Linked DNA regions of Homo sapiens: regions 1, 2 and 4 are each linked to region 3. Evidence: fine-mapped expression QTL. A gene starts in region 3. Each other region holds a variant in brackets. All regions are shown on one strand. Distances are from middle to middle.

Region 1 (5,000 bases), 70 kb before region 3:
GCTACTTGGGAGGCTGAGGCAGGAGAATCACTTGATCTCGGGAGGCGGAGGTTGCAGTGAGCCGAGATTGCACCACTGTACTCCAGCCTGGGTGACAGAGCGGGACTCTGTCTCAAAAAATAAAAGGTTACTTTAAATCTCTCCGAATTTCTTTTGAGACAGAGTCTCACTTTGTCGCCCAGGCTGGAGTGGTGCGATCTCAGCTCACTGCAACCTCCACCTCCTGGGTTCAAAAGATTTTCCTGCCTCAGCCTCCCGAGTAGCTGGGACTACAGGTACGTGCCACAGCCAGTTTTTTGTATTTTTAGCAGAGATGGCGTTTCACCATGTTAGCTAGGATGGCCTTGATCTCCTGACCTCATGATCCGCCCACCTTGGCCTCCCAAAGTGCTGGGTTTACAGGCGTGAGCCACTGTGACTGGTGGATCTCTCCAAATTTCTAATTTTACACCTCACAGTCTGTTCATGGTTTCTTTTTATGTCTTCTCTAACTCGAGTCATGAAATGTGTCTTCTGTTGGCTTAACCTTTCTACTCTCAATCACTACTGCAACATGGATCAGCATTTTACATTCCCTTGCAGGGAGGGACCATTTGAGGAATTCCAAATCAAATACTCATTACTTTTTTTCCCTTAAAAATTTAGTAGGCCAGGCGTGGTGGCTCATGCTTGTAATCCCGGCACTTTGGGAGGCTAAGGTGGGCAGATCACCTGAGGTCAGGAGTTTGAGACCAGTGTGGCCAACCTGGTGAAAGCCTGTTTCTACTAAAAAATACAAAGATCAGCCAGGCGTTGTTGCGCATGCTTGTAGTCCCAGCTACTTGAGAGGCTGAGGCAGGAAATCACTTGAACTACTCCAGCATGGGCAACAGAGCAAGACTCCATCTCAAAAAAAAAAAAAAAAAGTGTAAAAGGGATAGTATTTTTATTGTCAACCAAGGAATTATTAAAAAATAATAAAATTTCAAAGGTAATATAGTCAGTCTAAAGATGTCTAAGCTTCATAGTATTTTTCCCAAATAGCATGTGTATGCAAGACACAGAAAAGCTAAGCAAAATAGTTATTATTCTCACTAAAAAATTTTTTATTTTACTAAGAATAATTTGTCATTTCAGACAAAACTAACATTTTTCCATGGTTGCTACTATTTCTACTTCTTGAATACCCAATTTAAGGTTTAGTCCTCATTGAACATTAAAATGGCATAGATAGATATAAATAATAGATATAAATAAGATACAAGTATAAAGTTACTAAGGTTTTCTTTTTTTCTTTTGAGACCAAATCTCGCTCTGTGGCCCAGGCTGGAGGGCAGTGGTGCGATCCTGGCTCACTGCAACCTCCGCCTTTCTAGTTCAAGTGATTCTGTGTCAGCGTTAGGCCGCTTTGGCCTCTTAAAGTGCTGAGATTACAGGCGTGAGCCACCACACCTGGCCCTTTTACAAAATTGAAGAAATGAAAGGGTTACCCCGCCCAAAAAAAAAAAAAAAAAGATTACACTGGAAGGAAGTCACAGATTAAGGATCAAGACTGTTGAGTCTTTAGGTTCCAAAAGCTTCACCTACATTTTTCTTATATGTATTTGGATATTAAAGAAAATAAGTTACATATACACCATGGAATATTATTCAGCCATTTAAAAAAAATAAAATCTTGTCATTTGTAGCAACATGGATGGAACTGGAAGTCATCATGTTACGTGAAGTAAGTCAAGCACAGAAAGACAAAACTTGGATATTCTCACTCACATGGGAGCTTAAAAAGTGGATTTTGGCCAGGCGCGGTAGCTCATGCCTGTAATCCCAGCCCCTTGGGAGGCCAAGGCGGGTGGATCACCTGAGCTCAGGAGTTTGAGACCAGCCTGGCCAAGAGGGTGAAACCCTGTCTCTACTAAAAATACAAAAAATTAGCCGGGCGTGGTAGCGGATGCCTGTAAATCCCAGCTACTGGGGAGGCTGAGGCAGGAGAATTGCTTGAACCCAGGAGGCAGAGGTT[G/A]CAGTGAGCTGAGATCATGCCATTTCACTCCAGCCAAGGTGACAAGAGCAAGACTCCATCTCAAAAAAAAAAAAAAAAAAGTGGATCTCATGAAGATAGAGAGTAGATCGGTGGTATCAGAGGTCGGGAGGGGAAGGGGTGGGGTGATGAAAAGAAGTAGATTAATGGGTACAAATATATGGTTGGATAGAAGAAATAAGACCTACTGTTAGATGGATCGGTAGGTGACCATAGTTTAATCAGTAGGTGACCATAGTTTACAATATCTACTATACATTGTGAAATAGCTAGAGGAGAATTCAAATGGTTCTATCATAAAGAAAAGACAAATATTTAAGGTGATGGATATCCCAAATACACCAATTTGATATTTACAAATTATATGAATGTATTAAATTATCACATGCACCTTGAAAGTATGTACATCTAGCATTCATCAATTAAAAAACCCCAAAAGCTCTTACTCTATAGAAATAGTAATTCATTGTCATTTTATTTAAATCTGATAAAGCACAATCTAAAGCAGACTCCTTTCCTCACTGCTAATTGCAATTTTATTTATTTATTTATTTATTTAGAGACGGAGTCTCACTCTGTCCCCCAGGCTGGAGTGCACTGGCACGATTACGGCTCACTGCAGCCGCGAATTCCTGGGCTCAAGTGATCGTCCCATCTCAGCCTCCCAAGTAGCTAGAAGTAACGTGCCTGCCACTATGCCCTGCTAATTAAACAAATTTTTTTTCTTGTAGAGACGACGTCTTGCTATATTGCCCAGGCTGGTCACAAACTCCTGGCCTTAAATGATTTTCCCGCCTTGTCCTCCCAAAGTGCTGGGATTACAGGCATGAGCCACCACACCCAGTCTAATTTTTAAAAATTATTTAAGTCAGACCAGTGGCGTGTACCTGTAGTCCCAGCAACTCCAGAGGCTTAGGTGAGAAGATCCTTTGCGCCAAGGACTTTGAGGCTGCAGTGAGCTATGATCTCACCACTGCACTCCAGCTTGGGTGACAGAGTGAGATCCATACTGTGAAAAATAATAATACATAAAAAATTAAACAGGGCGCACAGTGGCCCATGCCTGTAATCCCAGCTCTTTGGGAGGATAAGGAAGGCAGAGTGCTTGAACTGGGGAGGCATAGGTTGCAATGAGCCGATACAGTGCCACTTCACTTCAGCCTGGGTGACAGAGTGAGACCCTGTCTCAAGAAAAAAAAAAAGTATTTATATTACTTTAGTGTCGTGTCCCTGTTTTCTTTGACTCATATGGGGATCCAGCTAAAATTGAACTGAACACCAGAAATGACCTTTTAAGAGTAAAATGGTATTTCATCAATAAATACTTTATTGGACATATAGTCCCTATATTACATTTTTATGGACCTTAGAAATACACAGAAGTAAAAGATAAAATGGGTTGCCCACTGTCCTCAATGGGCTAACAATCTATTTGAGAAGACAAAGCATTTAATACATAGAGACATTTTCTTGTTGGATGTGCTAAAACAATGAAAGATCAAGGAGGTAGACTTGAGAGTCTGGATGGATGTAGATTAGGTGGCACATTGCAGTTAAACAAGGAAAAGCCCTAGGTGGCATGGCATGTAGTGGTAGAAAGAATGGTGGAAGGGGCCAGGAGCAGTGGCTCATGTGTAATCCCAGCACTTTGGGAGGCTAAGGCAGGCAGATCACTTGAGGTCAGCAGTTCAAGACCAGCCTGGCCAACATGGTGAAACCCCGTCTCTACTAAAAATACAAACTTAGCCAGGCAGGGTGGCATGTGCCTGTAATCTGAGCTGCTCAGGAGGCTGAGGCATGAGAATCACTGGAACCTGGGAGGTGGAGGTTGCAGTGAGTTGAGATTGGCCACTGCACTCCAGCCCAGTGACAGAGCGAGACTCTGTCTCAAAGAGAAAAAAAAGAATGGTGGAAGGGTAATTCACAAAGTTTATCCAGAGTGTCAAAGCTCATTCCCAGGCTCTTGAACCATGGAACTATCCCAGAAATAGGCAGTAAAAAGAGGCACAGGATACTCTTCACCTTCTGTGATATTTTCAATTTAGTGCATCTTCCCCCTGCCCCCCCCCACCCCCCGCCGCTTGCTGGAGTACAGTGGTGCGATCTGAGCTCACTGCAACGTCTACCTCCAGGGCTCAAGCCAGCCTCCTGAGGCCTCCTGAAAAGCTGGGAAAACAGGCGCAAACCACCATGCCCGGCTGATTTTTGTTTTTTTTACCTTTCATAGAGACGTGGTCTCACTGTGTTGCCCAGGCTGGAATTTAGTGCATCTTTATTGAAAGGATATTGCATTCATGAAATTAGCTCATAATTGAGTGTCAAAACTGCACTTAAGTCAATCATTTTGTAGGCTATTGTACATAGTAGAAAAAGTAAGAACGACCACTCTATCTAGAAGTTTACTGCATATCAGGGGAGATTAGGCAAGTATAAAAATGACTAATACAAAGTAGAGTGAGGTAAGGATGAATTAACAGGATGGGAGATTATTACTGTGGCAGATTGGATTTTCCAAAAATTCCCACAGCGGTATTTTGAATCCCACATGTTCTTCCAGAATCTTGCCACAATCTCCCCTAGAGGTGGTGTCCCTAGGACTTGTGGCTGCCCCTACAGACACAATGCAGTAAAAGATGCTGGTTCAGTTCTGAGGACATCCCTTGGACCCCAGCTGCCACGCTGTGAGGAAGCCCAGGCCGCTTGGAGAAGCCATCTGGAGGTGCTGGAGCTGACACCAGCACCCAATGCCAGACTGGGGAATGAGGGAGCCACCTGATCATTCCAGTCCCCAGCCCTGGGGCTGTCCCAGCTGACCTCAAGTACAGCAGAGACTCATGCAAGCTGGACCTAAATTGCACGCCCCCCTGAAATATATAATTTATTTCATGAACATAGATCTGAACATTAGAACAGATTATTGAGGCCGGTTTTGGTGGCCCATGCCTGTAATCCCAGCACTTGGGGAGGCTGAGACAGCTGGATTGCT
Region 2 (5,000 bases), 50 kb before region 3:
AGTGTGTGAGCCAATCGGGGAGCTCAGCTGGAGCTGAGCCTGAAGCCTCAAGCAGCATTGTTCATCTGGGAAATTGTGGCTGAGGATGCTGGACAGTGAGAGTAGCAAGGGGTACAACCAGTCGTGAGGTTTCTTACATTTAGGAACAGTGGTTGCCTCTTTTTTGGAAACACTTTTTTCAGGCGATCCTCCCACTTCAGCCTCCTGAGTAGCTGGGACTACTGGTGCGTGCCACAATGCCTGGCTAATTTTTGTAGTTTTGTAGAGGTGAGGTTTTGCCATGTTGCCTAGGCTGGTCTTGAACTCCTGGGTTCATGCCATCCTCCCTCAAAGTGCTGGGATTACAGGTGTGAGCCACTGCACCCAGCCTGGACATACTTTAAATCGATGGCAGATTTTTTTTTGATGTTTTTAGGTTATAAAGGTAATATTGATTTATTATTTTAAAAATGCACTAGCAATTTATATACAGATTTATATGAAGCTGAAAAGAAAAGTGTCACTTCTGAGGGGAGCTCTGGAGGATTTGGTAGATTGGTGACTATCAATTGAGGCCTTTTCTTTGCACATACATTCACTTACATATATCTATATACTTCTTATAACTGAAAAGTAAGATGTCCTGTATATACTATTCTGCTACTTTGTTTACTTAATATCTTACATGAGCTATTAATGGCCATGTTATTATTCCATTATAAGGATACGCTGTGATTTATTTGATCATTCATTCAACAAATACTTACTGAGTTCATATTGTGTGTCAGCCTTTGTGCAAGGTGCCGAGATTAGAGCAGTGAACAAGACAATGTCCCAGTTGTCATGGAGTTGATATTTGCTGTTTGGGGAGGTACCTGGGGTGGGGAAGGTGCTCTAGGAAGGTGATCTTTGAAGACAGCTGCAGGAAGTGAGAGAGGAGGCCACATGAAGACCTGAGGGAGGCATATTCTAGGGAAGAGCCAGTGCAAAGGCCCTGAGGTGAGCCTGTGCTTGGTGTGTTCAAAGATCATTGAGGAGGGGCCAGGCGCAGGGGCTCATGCCTGTGATCCCAACACTTTGGGAGGCTGAAGCGGGAAGATCACTTGAGGTCAGGAGTCCAGACCAGCCTAGGCAACAAAGTGAGACCCCATCTCTACTAAAATCACAAAAATTAGCCAGGTGTGGTCGTGTGTACTGTGGTCCCAGCTACTTGGGAGGCTGAGGTGGGAGGATGGCTTGAGCCTGGGAGGAAGAGATTGCAGTGAGCCGAGATCACGCCACTGCACTCTAGCCGGGGCGACACAACCAGACCCTGTCTCAAAAAAAAAAGGAACATTGAGGAGGTGAGTGTGGGGTGGAAGAAATGAAAGAAGAGGGAGGAGTGATGGGACCTGATGTTGCAGATGTATCTAAGTCAGATCATGAAGGGCTTGGAGACCGTTGGATGGAGCACATTTTAAGGAAGATGGGAAACTTCTGCAGGCCACTAGGTTCCTTTCTTGTCATATATTACGTTTTTTTCCCCCCGATTTTATATCATTATAAAGAATGCTACAATGAAGGCTATCACACCGTTCTGTAACTTTTTGATAGAATGAATTTCTAGAAGTTCAACTGTTGGGTCACAAGATAGGCATACTGAAATTTTTGATAGAGAAAGCTAAATTATCTTCCAAAACAGTTGTTTGATTTTACACTCTCAGCGACAGTATATGAGAATGACCATTTCTCTTTCAACAGTGGATATTATTAGTATTTTAGTCTTTGTTAGTCAGAGAGGTAAAAGCTGGCATCAGTTATTTAATTTTGATTTCTTTATAGATTGGTGAGTTTGAACATTGTTTTCTGTTTTTATGGAACATTTGTATTTCTTCTATAAGTGGAGTTTTATTAGTGTGTTAGATTCCTTTTGTTGTAAGTAATAGGAAACTAGATGCTTTCGTAGTCCGTAGATGTGATGATTGGATCTTCACGCTCGTGTGTGAGATGTGCCTCTCTCCAGCCTTGTTAGGATGTTGGAACATTACCCATCTGACATGAAAAGAAAAAAGAAAAAACATTGTTTTAAATAAAGGAGAAAAATTAAGGAATAGGAAATCACTGACTAGCTTAAACAGAAACATGATACTTGCTGGAAGGATACTGGTTATTTTTTGGAATCTACAGTGGAGATGAACAGCTAAGCCCCAGGAAGAAGGGGAGCAAGGCCAGCCCTTAGGCCTCAGCAGCAGGGATTGGTGAACATTTTCCATTCTCTGTGCGATTCAGCTCCACACTCCCAGATTTATTTTATTTTATTTTATTTTTTTAAACCAAATTTCGCTCTTGTTGCCCAGGCTGGAGTGCAATGGTGCGATCTTGGCTCACTGCAACCTCCACTTCTCAGGTTCAAGCGATTTTCCTGCCTCAGCCTCCTGAATAGCTGGGATTACAGGCACAAGCCACCATGCGCCACTAATTTTTTTATTTTTAGTAGAGATGGGGTTTCACCATATTGGCCAGGCTGGTGAATTCCTGACCTCAGGTGATCCACCCACCTTGGCCTCCCAAAGTGCTGGGATTACAGGTTTGAGTCACTGTGCCTGGCCCCAGATTATTTGTTTAAAATTCCAGATGCCCAGGGTTCTCACCAGGCAGGATCAGCTTCAGTTAGAGTTCCAGGGTTGCACAGTACAGGTTTGGATGCTGGGGGCCTACTCCTGTGCTGCATTTTCCTGAGAAAGCTTCAGCAGGAGCAGACA[C/T]ATCATGTATCTGCTGTTTCCTTTTTAAATTGTTTTTTTCCTTTTTTTTTTGTTTTATTTTTTTTGAGACGGAGTCTCGCTCTGTCACCCAGGCTGGAGTGCAGTGGCGCGATGTCAGCTCACTGCAAGCTCCGCCTCCCGGGTTCACACCATTCTCCTGCCTCAGCCTCCTGAGTAGCTGGGACTACAGGTGCCCGCCACCACGCCCTGCTAATTTTTTGTATTTTTTAGTACAGGTGGGGTTTCACCATGTTAGCCAGGATGGTCTTGATCTCCTGACCTTGTGATCCGCCCGCCTCAGCCTCCCAAAGTGCTGGGATTACAGGTGTGAGCCACCGCGCCCAGCCAGTTTGTTCACTTTTTAATTGATTTGTAAGAGCTCTTTGCACATGAGAGATAAGAACTTTTTGTCATTTGTGTTTAATTTTTTTTTATTCTTTTGGGACAGGCTCTTGCTCTGTTGCCCAGGCTGGAGTGCAGTGGTGCAAACAGCTCACTGCAGCCTTGACCTCTTGGGCCAAGTGATACTCCTGCCTTAGCCTCCCATGTAGCTGGGACCACAACCGGGCACCACCATGTCTGACTAGTATTTTAATTTTTTGTAGAGACAGCATCTCACTTTGTTGCCTAGGCTGCTCTCAAACTCCTGGCCTCAAGTGATCTGCCTGCCTCAGCTTCCTAAAGTGTTGGGATGACAGGCGTGAGCCACCATGTCTGCCTTAATAGTTTTATTTTAACCATTATGCTGCCTTTTGCCACGTGGAAGTTTTGTAGTTGTATCTAATCATATCTTCCATCTTTTCCTTTGTGGCTTCTAGATTTTTTGCCATGCTTAGAAAGACTTTCTTGCCCAAGATGATAAGCTACTCACCCATATTTCCTTCTAGTATTTTTGTCATTTATCCTTTATGTTTAAATTTTCTATACATGGAGGCTGGGCACAGTGGCTCATGCCTGTAATCCCTGCACTTTGGGAGGCCGAGGAGGGCAGATTACTTGAGGTCAGGAATTTGAGACCTGACTGGCCAATGTAGTGAAACCCCATCTCTACCAAAAATACAGAAATTAGCTGGGCATGGTGGCTTACGCCAGTAATCTCAGGTACTCGGGAGGCTGAGGCAGGAGAATCGCTTGAATCCAGGAGGTGGAGGTTGCAGTGAGCCAAGATCGTGCCATTGTACTCCAGCCTGGGTGACAGTGAGACTCTGTCTAAAAAAAAAAAAAAAAAAATTTCTATACATGTAGCATTTGTTTTGATGTGAGGCATGAGGCATGAGGTAAGGAATCTAGGTTTAATTTCCTAAAAATGGCCAATTTTTTTGCCAAGGTCCATTTTTTTCTCTACTGATTTGAAATGCCATATTTCTTATATCAAATATTCATTAAAGCTTGATTAAGTCTATTTCTGGACTAGAGCTATTTGCAATAATAAATTTTGGTGATCTAACTTAAGAAATCTATCTAATATCTTTTTTTTTTTTTTTGAGACAGAGTCTCGCTCTGTCACCCAGGCTGAAGTAAGTGCAGTGGCACGATCTCGGCTCACTGCAACCTCTGCCTCCCAGGTTCAAGTGAGTCTTCTGCCTCAGCTTCCCGAGTAGCTGGGACTACAGGCGCCCACCACCATGCCCAGCTAATTTTTGTATTTTTAGTAGAGACGGGGTTTCACCATATTGGCCAGGCTGGTCTCAAACTCCTGACCTCATGATCCTCCCACCTCGTCCTCCCAAAGTGCTGGGATTACAGGCGTGAGCCACCATGCCCGGCCATTTTTTTTTTTTTTTTTTTTTTTAAGACAGAATTTCGCTCTTGTTGCCCAGGCTGGAGTGCAATGGCGGGATCTTGGCTCACCGCAACCTCCACCTCCCGGGTTCAAGCAATTCACCTGCCTCAGCCTCCCAAGTAGCTGGGATTACAGGCATGCACCATCATGCCCGGATACTTTTGTATTTTTATTAGAAATGGGGTTTTTCCATGTTGGTCAGGCTGGTCTCGAACTCCTGACCTTAGGTGATCTGCCCGCCTTGGCCTCCCAAAGTGCTGGGATTACAGGTATGAGCCACCACACCCGGCTTTTTTTTTTTCTTTGAGATGGAGTCTCACTCTTTCGCCAGGTTGGAATGCAGTGGTGCGATCTTGGTTCACTGCAACCTCCAACTCCTCGGTTCAAGGGATTCTCCTGCCTCAGCCTCCCGAGTAGCTGGGACTACAGGCGCACGCCACCACACCTGGCCAATTTTTGTATTTTCAGTAGAGACGGCCAGGATGGTCTCAATCTCC
Region 3 (5,000 bases):
AAAAATTCCTTCCCTGTAGTATCTATATATTTAAGCTTACAAACTTAGCTGCTTTTCTACACACAACTGCAATTCTATATTAAAGCTTTGCAACTGCCTTAATCTCTACACTCTTTTTTTTTTTTTTCCCGAGACGGAAAAAAAAGAGTCTCGCTCTGTTGCCAGGCTGGAGTGCAGTGGCGCGATCTCGGCTCATCGCAACCTCCGCCTCCCGGATTCAAGCGATTCTCCTGCCTCAGCCTCCCGAGTAGCTGGGACTACAGGCATGCGCCAACACGCCCGGCTAATTTTTGATATTTTAGTAGGGACGGGGTTTCGCCATGTTGGACAGGCTGGTCAAACTCCTGACCTCAGGTGATGCGCCCGCCTCGGCCTCCCAGAGTGCTGGGATCACAGGCATGAGGCACCGCGCCCGGCCTATGCTCAAATGTTTCTTGGGCTGTTAAAGTACTGCTCCTCGCAGAAGGGCTATGTTCCCGGGATCTATTCTCTTCCGTACATTCATTCCTATCTTCATTAGAAAACATCTGACCTAAATAAATCCCCCATCGATGCTAACATCTCCTTCCGCGCAATTTTTTACTTTCTAAGTCAAATCAAAACAATTATTTGAGCGACTGCTCCTGTCTGCCATTAAGTCTTTCTGGCACCACCCTCCAGACATATATACAATATTGCTTCTTTCCCTCAAATCAGAAAGGACTGCATAGTTCCGGATCAAGGCATAAATGATGAATCATGACTGTCCATCCCCACCAACATACTCTGCAACATTATAATCTATTTACCTCTGCTTTGAAAATGTATTCTTTAAAGCACTGCTTCCAACTAGCCACTTAGCCAGTAACATTTTTGAGAAAAACAAAACACAACCCAAAACAATGTATATATTCCTGGGGGGAAGAGTTTCTAACTCAAAATACGCAGATAATTGTTTATTATTCTAAGGAACACCCTTCTGAAGAGGCCTGCAGTCGGTGGGGCTGTTTCTAATTTAAAACTACTTAGGTGAACCAGGAAGAATGTACATTTAAGGAGATACTTTTAGACGCAGATGCCTCGCGCAAGCCTAAAGCTCGTGTGGTAAGCGACACGACTAGGGGTTAAAAGCGGCTGGTTGGTAGGCCCGGGGCCGTGGCTCACGCCTTGTAAACCCAGCACTTTGGGAGGCTGAGGCGGGCAGATCACCTAAGGTTAGGAGTTCGAGACCAGCCTGGCAAATATGGTGAAACGCCGTCTCTACTAAAAACACAAAAATTAGCCGGCGTAGTGGCGCGCGCGCGCTCTCAGCTACTCGAGAAGCTAAGGCAGGAGAATCACTTAAACCCAGGAGGCGGAGGTTGCAGTGAGCCAAGATTGCGCCACTGCACTCCAATCTGGGCACAGAGTGAGACTCCGTCTCAAATAAATAAATAAAAGCAGCTAGTTACTTCTCATTCTTTTAACGAAACAAACAAAACTGAACTTTGCTGGGTGACAGGAGTGAAGCAAAGGAAAAAACGATAGTACAAGTTCGATTCGAATTCTTCCAGTCTTATGATTCGATCATCGCAGGAATACTGATAAAAATCTGCGTTTTTTCCAGGTTGACAACTTTTGCGAGGCCAGACTAAACGAATTCAGCGCTCCAAGGAGACTCCTCTTTCCTCTGCTTTCTCACATTTACCTCTCGCCTTTTACCTCCCAAAGTCGAACCCTCCAGGATCGTACAGGCGGTATTCCCTCTACCAAGCATTCTACTCCTCTGCAGATGCTGCAATCTTTACACTGGAACTAACACTTAGCTGTGGTGTTCCCCGCTTTCTTTACTCGGAGTAGCCCAGGCTCTTCCTCTCCAATCCACAATTTCCCTCCAATCCCCAGTTTCCCTCTTGGGCGCCTGGACGCGTGCCCAGCCGCAGCCTGGGAGACACCGCGCGGCTGCACGCACCATGCAGATGTGGTCCCTTTCCCCTTCTTCTTCTCCTCCCCAAAGAGGTTTTGTGCTGTGACTGGCTTGCCCCGGTTACTTACTCCAAGGTGTAGGGGTGAAGAACGGAAGAGGACGAAATAACTAGCTGGAGGCAGCAGTGTCAGCCGATGCCGGTGCCACGGCTCGAAACACCGGCGCCTCTCGCGGTGCTAAAAGGATGGGCGCGCACCCTCCTTCCGGCATCCGTAGAACCCCCGCCTTTGACCTAGCTTCAGGAGATTACTTTCCGGGTCAGCGTGCGTTTAGGGCGAAGACGGAGTTGTAAACTTCTTAAAATTCCTCTCTCGACACTTCGGTAATTCCTCTTTCGAGACTAAAGCTCTTTTTGTATGCGTGTGTGTCAAGCGTATGCCCCGGGATTCTCCTCCGCTTCCTTTTCTCGGTCTTCCTTCTTGCTTTAGGGACCGGAAGAGTCCTTGAACCAAAATAGCTCGGCGGGCACTTCCGGGGCCGGCGCCCAGAGTTCCGGGAGGGTGCAGGCAGGAGAGGGAAAGGCAGCAGCGGCGGCAGCTGGAGGATGAAGAAGGAGCATGTGCTTCACTGCCAGTTCTCCGCGTGGTACCCGTTCTTCCGAGGCGTTACCATCAAGAGGTGAGATGGGAGGGGGTTCGCCCGGTCGACCGGCAAAAGGGAACTGCGACTTCTGAGCGAATCTTACTGCTATCCAAAAAAATGCAGGCCTTCTAGCGACTGCATGGGAGGGAGTGTGTCGAGAGGGAAGTACATCAGCAATTGTCTGCGTCCTGTTGCGAGCCAGCGAGTGTGCTGGCTAGGAGGGTCAGTTGTGGTTTTCAGTGAGGGTCGGAGGCGGGAGGAATAGTGGATTAACCTAGTTTAGGCTTGGGAGTTCACCACCACTACTTTTAGAATGGCCCCAGGCGCAAGGTGATCACTGCCTAAGTGCACTCGGAGAATTAATTGCTTTTCGCCATCACCCCAGAGGATGGAGATTGGGAAGGTGAAAGGATACGTAATTACAGTTAGATACGAGAACAAGTTCACAGATATGTCGTACAGCATGGAGGCTATAGTTAATGACGATATACGTATTCTTGAAAAACGGAGAGTGGATGTTAGTGTTCTCACCACAAAAATAACTATGTTAGGCAATGCATTTGTTAGCTAAATTTATTCCACAGTGTATATATACTTAAAAACATCAGGTAGGCGGCAAGTATTAATATATACAATTTCATCTCTCAGTTTTTTTAAAGGCGTTGATAGAAAATCTGGGCTTTGCACTTAACTGATTTTCTGAGCCAACATTTCAGTAATTGCTGATTCATTATATGATGGTTTCATTCAATAAAGATCGGATATGTACTTGAAAATGTGTAACTGGCTTAGAATGGTTAAAATGTATAAGAAAAGTTTCAAGTTCTTAAATAGTATTGGAATGTGTGGTAGAACCTTAGATTCATTGTACTTAACAATTTCGCTTGTTAGCTTTGTAAGAGTAAAATACTTAGGAAGGCTTATTTGTAATCAGCAAATAGACATATTAAGAAAGAAAATTGAGTGGTTTATGAATAGAATTTAAAATTTTAAAGAGACTTTTAAGTTGCAAAGTTTCGCTTGAAATTGTTTAAAATTTAGTAGATTTTCAAACGTAATAAGATTTGTTAGAAGAAATTAAAAGCCTGAAGAACTAGATTTTTTTTTTTTGAGACAGAGTTTTGTTCTGTCGCCCAAGCTGGAGTGCAGTGGCAGCGATCTTGGCTCACTGCAAGCTTCCCTTCCCGAGTTCACGCCATTCTCCTGCCTCAGCTTCCTGAGTAGCTGGGACTACAGGCGCCCGCCACCACCCCCGGCTAATTTTTTGTATTTTTAGTAGAGGCGGGGTTTTCACCGTGTTAGCCAGGATGGTCTCGATTGCCTGACCTCGTGATCCGCCCGCCTCGGCCTCCCAAAGTGCTGGGATTACAGGTGTGAGCCACCGCGCCCGGCCAGAACTAGATTTTTGAATGTGAAATTGTACCTTTGATAAATCAAATATTTATTTTTAAAACCGAAGTTTTTGCTCTGTCGCCCAAGCTGGAGTGCAGTGGCAGTGATCTTTTATTTATTTAAAAATAAATAAAAATACTTATTTTTAAAACCGAAGTAGCCCATGAATACTCTTTTTTGTGCAAAAAAACCATTTGTAATGTGCCAAAAAAAACTTCTTCCATAAATAAATGAGACATGTTATAAGTCATTGATGTTCTGTTAACTTCGGGAAAGCAGGCTGTAATCTTTTCCACTTTTTGAAGATGTATATGCCTCAAAATCAAAATAATACCAGCACTCTTAGGGATCTGTGGTAGGGCTTTTTGATAATTTATTATTTCAAGGTAAAAAACAAATTATCCCATAAGTTTTTAAGAGACTTCAGGTATGGCTTTGCCATCCTTAATTATGATTACCTGAAACAAATTAAGCTAAAGCATGCCTAGTTTAAGCAGCTTTATATCTCTGGTGATCAGTTGAATAGAAAGCCAGCAAGACACATCCAAAAGTATCATGAATTCTTAGCGGTAGGTGCTCACTGCCAACCCAAGAATGGTTTCCAGATCTTGACTCTACTTCTGCCCTCTATCTTTAGAAGGTGACCAAATGCTAGTCATCTTCTAGTTGGGTTTGCTGCATTTCCTGTGTTGCAGCAAATATCTGCTGGTCTCTGATTTCTTAAAGACACATAAATGTTGTGCTCACTCAGAATCCTTTTGAGCTTGTTGCTTTCATACTGTGATTTCCATCTGGTGGTTTGGATTTGGCTGGTTTTTGTTTACTACAAAGACCATTGTGGCAATAAGATGAACCGCAGTAATCTTATTATTCTGATTTCTTGTCTACTGCTACCAAATGTACATCATTAACATTTTCTACTTTATATTAAAAGAAAGACAATTCCAAAATTAATCAAGTGTAGAGATTTTTCTCTCTGCTTATAGTTGGTCTTTTAAAATGATGCCTTTTTTGGTGTTTTTTTTTTAGTGTCATTCTTCCACTTCCTCAGAATGTGAAGGATTATTTACTCGATGATGGA
Region 4 (5,224 bases), 53 kb after region 3:
CGATTTTAGTGAAGTTGACGCTCAAGAGCAGGTACAACATTTTTAAGACAGATACAATGTAAACCTTTCCAGTCTACTGACTGACTGCTTGTTCTTCAGACGCATAGGTAGGCGGCAATGGCCAGGACCCTTGGGAAGCGCAGAGTGTAACACAGCTTTACTAATAGCTAACCTGCCCATGGTGGTGGTCAAAGAAGGGGGCCCCACTTAACTTTATATACAGAAGTCAGGATCATCTGATCAGTTTTTTTAGTTCTTTTTCTGAGCTTCTTCTGTCACACCCACCTGGAGGAATCTTGGTCCCAGATCAGCTCATGCATCTGTTCCTTCTGACCCCAGCCCCAGCTGCTGAGGCCGACAGAGAAGTTACACACGTGCAGCCCAGCGGATTCCTGTCAGCTTTCTCCTCCATTTCCACGGTGACTGGCTCACGCCTTGATGCTTCTCAGTCTCCCATCATTCCTTCCTTCCTCTCAGCAGATGATTTAACTTGCTGTTTCCCGGAAAAGGGAACCCACTGATGAGAATTCCCTCAGTTGATTTCTCATCACACCTACAAGCTTGTCCGTCCCTTCCTGAGTCTAATCTCCCCCCTCCATACACTTGTGTCCCCCTCTGTCATCTCCCCACTCTGGACACTGTGTCCTCCTCTGTCACCTCCCCCCTCAGTACACTGTGTCTTCCTCTCTCACCTCCCCCTCAGGACACTGTGTCCTCCTCTCTCTCACCTCCCCCTCAGGACACTGTCCTCCTCTCTCACCTCCCACTCTGGACACTGTGTCCTCCTCTCTCACCGCCCACTCCGGACACTGTGTCCTCCTCTCTCTCACCTCCCCCTCAGGACACTGTCCTCCTCTCTCACCTCCCACTCCAGACACTGTGTCCTCCTCTCTCTCACCTCCCCCTCAGGGCACCGTGTCCCCCTCTCTCACCTCCCCCTCAGGACACTGTCCTCCTCTCTCACCTCCCACTCTGGACACTGTGTCCTCCTCTCTCTCACCTCCCCCTCAGGACACTGTCCTCCTCTCTCACCTCCCACTCCGGACACTGTGTCCTCCTCTCTCACCTCCCCCTCAGGACACTGTGTCCTCCTCTCTCACCTCCCCCTAAGGACACTGTCCTCTTCTCGCACCTCCCACTCTGGACACTGTGTCCTCCTCTCTCACCTCCCACTCCGGACACTGTGTCCTCCTCTCTCACCTCCCCCTCAGGACACCGTGTCCCCCTCTCTCACCTCCCCCTCAGGACACTGTGTCCTCCTCTCTTACCTCCCCCTCAGGACACTGTGTCCTCCTCCTCTTTCTCCAGATGCCCTCTGCTCTTTTTGCAATTCTTCCTCTCTATCAACTCTGTCCATCCGGATTTAGTCATGCTCAGATACCTCCCATCCGAAAAAAACAAAACATTGTTCAACCCGGTTTCTTCACCCAGCCACTCTCTCCTTTCCTGCCAGCTTCACAGCCAGACTTTCCTGAAACAACTTTGTAGTGCTGTTTTCTGCCCATAAAAGTAACATGTCCAAGACGGGCGGATCAGGAAGTCAGGGTATCGAGACCATCCTGGCTAACACGGTGAAAACCTGTCTCTACTAAAAATACAAAAAAAAAATTAGCCGGGCGTGGTGGCGGGCGCCTGTAGTCCCAGCTACTTGGGAGGCTGCGGCAGGAGAATGGCATGAATCCGGGAGGCAGAGCTTGCAGTGAGCCGAGATTGTGCCACTGCACTCCAGCCTGGGCGACAGGGCAAGACTGTCTCAAAAAAAAAAAAGTAACGTGCTCATTCTTAAAGAAAATTATAAAATCACTTATGATTTGAGAACCTTGAGAACCAGTGTTTATATTTTGATACATAACGTGCATTTAAACACATGCATAGACCTTTGTAAATAAATGAAATCATACTACATACTCAATTACATGTCCTGAGATTTTCACAGTGTTCTCTTGTGAGCATTTTATATCTTTTAAAAAATAGTTTTGGGCCAGACGTAGTGGCTCACACCTGTAATCCCAGCACTTTGGGAGGCCGAGGCTGGTGGATCACCTGAGGTCAGGAGTTCGAGACCAGCCTGGCCAACATGGTGAAACCCCGTCTCTACTAAAAATACAAAAAATTAGCTGGGCATGGTGGCAGATGCCTGTAATCCCAGCTACTTGGGAGGCTGAGGCAGGAGAATTGCTTGAACCTGGAAGGCGGATGTTGCAGCAGTGAGCCAAGATCACGCCATTGCACTCCAGCCTGGGTGACAGAGCGGGACTCCGTCTCAAAAAAAAAACAGGCCAGGTGCGGTGGCTCACACCTGTAATCCCAGTACTTTGGGAGGCTGAGGCAGGTGGATCACCTGAGGTTGGGAGTT[C/T]GAGACCATCCTGATCAACGTGGAGAAACCCCGTCTCTACTAAAAGTAAAAAAATTAGCCAGGCATGGTGGTGCATGCCTGTAATCCCAGCCACTCGGGAGGCTGAGGCAGGAGAATCGCTTGAACCTGGGAGGTGGAGGTTGCGATGAGCTGAGATTGCTCCATTGCATCCAGCCTGGGCAACAAGAGTAAAACTTCGTCTAAAAAAAAAAAATTAGTTTTGGCAGCTGGGCATGGTGGTTCATGCCTGTAATCCCAGCACTTTGGGAGGCCGAGGCAGGCAGATCACCTGAGGTCAGGAGTTTGAGACCAGCCTGGCCAACATAGTGAAATCCCTATCTCTACTAAAAATACAAAAATTAGCCGGACGTGGTGACGCGCGCCTGTAGTCCCAGCTACTTGGGAAGCTGAGGTGGGAGAATCACTTGAACCTGGGAGGCAGAGGTTGCAGTGAGCAACAGAGACCTGGGCAACAGAGATCGTGCCCCTGCACTCCAGTCTGAGAACAGAGCGAGACTTTGCCTCAAAAAAAAAAAAAAAAATAGTTTGGCATGGGTGCAACAGCCCACCTAGCCTATAATCTTAACACTTTGGGAGGCCAAGGCAGGAGGATTGCTTCAGCTCAGGAGTTCAAGACCAGCCTGGGCAACATACTGAGATATTTTCTGTACTAAAATTTAAAAAACTCAGCTGGGCGTGGTGGCGCATGCCTATAGTCCCAGCTACTTGGGAGGCTGAAGTGCGAGGTTCACCTGAGCCCAGGAGGTCGAGGCTGCAGTGAGCCACTGCACTCCAGCTGGAATTACAGACGTGAGCCACCGTGCCCGGCTCATTTTAACTTAAGCATCTTCCTTTCTCCTCATCAAGTACAGAGGAAAACATGGAGTTGAAATTGTTTTGCTAGGTTCTTTTTTAGTTCACAGAATAGGCCTAAAAATAAATGATTGATATTCTTTCTCCTTTTTCTTCTTTGTACAGGATTCCCCAGCTTTCCGTTGCACAAACAGTGAAGTGACAGTCCAGCCCAGCCCCTATTTGAGTTACCGGCTACCCAAGGACTTTGTAGACCTCTCTACTGGGGAGGACGCTCACAAGCTAATAGACTTCCTTAAGCTGGTAAAGTCTATGTGCATTTAGTATGCTGGCCATCTTTTCAAATAGACCTTCAAATTGGCTTTTATATAATATTTCATTGGAATCCTGTATCACCTAGACTTTGATGGTTATGAATGGAACCAAGTTACTGAGTTAGAGCATTTTCTAATTAAATATGAAATAGGAGCTGAAGGCATAATTTATTGATTAGAATGACAGAAAATGTTTTTATGCTGTACATGCCTTTTGAACATTTTTCAAAATACTTGTAACTTTGAAGAAAGTGTGTATATTGTTAGAAGGCTGTAAGGAGAGCAGGTCTCTGCTCTGGTGGTGATTTTACTCAAGAGGGGATGTGAATATTTATATTTTTGTGTGGATTTCTGTGTAGGAGTTTTTGTATGTATGGAAGAAAGAGAAGAAAATACTCAAATACCTGAGGATAATTTGCTCAGGAGTCAAAGTGATAAACTAGTTTAATGAATTAAAGCATGGTTTTCCATGACAATTTTTAATTACATCCTTTGCCAAGACCTCTAGAAAATTACACCTGCTGAGCAGATATCCCAAGGAGCATGTGCTATTTTAACATCCCCTTGGTTTTCTTTGACAGAAGAGAAATCAGCAGGAGGACGACTGATGAGCGTACTGGAACTGGAGAAGAGGAGGCCCCGCCCCACCGCTCCGGGAGCTGCTCATCAGCCGCAACTTCCTGCCGACCCTGATGCGGGTGGGCCGAGCAGTGTGGACATCAGCCACTTTTTATATTCATGTACATTCACCTGGGGAAAAAAACGGAGGGACTTTGCTACTTGTAAAAATAACATAATAAATAGATCTTAAACATAGGAAAACCATACTGTTCTGATAATAAAATGCTTTCTATGAAATACGTTGCTTTTCTACCGAGTCATTATTTTATTTATTTATTTTAATTTTAATTTTTTGAGACAGTCTCGCTGTGTCGCCCATGCTGGAGTGCACTGGTGCGATCTCGGCTCACTGCAACCTCCACCTCCTGGTTCAAGCGATTCTCCTGCCTCAGGCTCCCAAGTAGCTGGGATTACAGGTGCATGCCACCACACCCAGCTGAGTTTTATATTTTTAGTAGAGGTAGGGTCTCACCGTGTTGGCCAGGCTGGTCTGGAACTCCTGATCCTCAAGTGATTTGCCCACCTTGGCCTCCCAAAGTGCTGGGATTATAGGTGTGAGCCACCACGCCCGCCCTGTTTTGTTTAGGGACAGTCTTGTTCTGTTGCCCAGTCTGGGGTGCAGTGGCACAATCACAGCTCACTGCAGCCTCAATCTCCTGGACTCAGGCAGTCCTGCCTCAGCCTCCTGAGTAACTGGGACTACAGGTGCACACCACCACGCCCAGCTGATTTTTGTATTTTTTTGTAGAGATGGGGTTTTGCCATGTGGCGTTTTTAAAAGGCCACCATTTTTAAGTGATGATATCAATTGTGCCTAATTTACCGAGGCTTTATGATGTGCCAGACATTCTACTAAGAGCTCTTTCTGTATTAGTTGACATCACCAAGCAATTTGAAGGATACAGACATCACAATTTCCCAGGGTACCTGCCCGACGTGGTATCCGGTGGTAATCTTCGTCCTCAGTACTTGATCTTTGTATTCAGTACATCAGATGCCCTTTTTTTCTTTTTTTTAAGTAGTAGAGATGGGGTTTCCCTGTGTTGCCCATACTGATCTCAAACTCCTGGCCTTAAGCAATCCTCCTGCGTCAGCCTTCCAAACTGCTAGGATTACAGGT

Alleles and levels. Alleles are on the strand shown, and positions count from the first base shown. SD is a standard deviation of normalised expression in the study named. Not every link is listed here.
As copies of T replace C in region 2, the expression in testis of the gene that starts at base 2,432 in region 3 goes down (small effect, 0.35 SD a copy in GTEx).

The links.
Region 1: its variant is fine-mapped to the expression of CDC123 in whole blood (TOPMed, PIP above 0.99).
Region 2: its variant is fine-mapped to the expression of CDC123 in testis (GTEx, PIP 0.94).
Region 4: its variant is fine-mapped to the expression of CDC123 in whole blood (TOPMed, PIP above 0.99).

What each region holds. Positions count from the first base shown.
Region 1 is chr10:12,123,484-12,128,483 of GRCh38, forward strand. No RefSeq gene overlaps it. Among named protein-coding and RNA genes, the nearest start is that of SEC61A2, 3.7 kb to the right of the region's middle. The variant G/A (reference allele first, on the strand shown) is at 1,997.
Region 2 is chr10:12,143,751-12,148,750 of GRCh38, forward strand. All of the region lies in intron 4 of SEC61A2 (SEC61 translocon subunit alpha 2), which reads left to right. LOC124902579 (small nucleolar RNA U13) reads left to right here and starts at 1,913; the gene lies at 1,913-2,016. The variant C/T (reference allele first, on the strand shown) is at 2,721.
Region 3 is chr10:12,193,757-12,198,756 of GRCh38, forward strand. It overlaps CDC123 (cell division cycle 123), which reads left to right and starts at 2,432. Exons shown (of 13, transcript NM_006023.3): 1 at 2,432-2,563; 2 at 4,949-5,000. The coding sequence starts at 2,490. It overlaps NUDT5 (nudix hydrolase 5), which reads right to left and starts at 2,135. Exons shown (of 10, transcript NM_014142.4): 1 at 2,014-2,135. RefSeq lists an enhancer at 2,179-2,448.
Region 4 is chr10:12,246,247-12,251,470 of GRCh38, forward strand. CDC123 (cell division cycle 123) reads left to right here. Exons shown (of 13, transcript NM_006023.3): 11 at 1-31; 12 at 3,335-3,472; 13 at 4,065-4,343. The coding sequence ends at 4,091. Among named protein-coding and RNA genes, the nearest start is that of CDC123, 53 kb to the left of the region's middle. The variant C/T (reference allele first, on the strand shown) is at 2,357.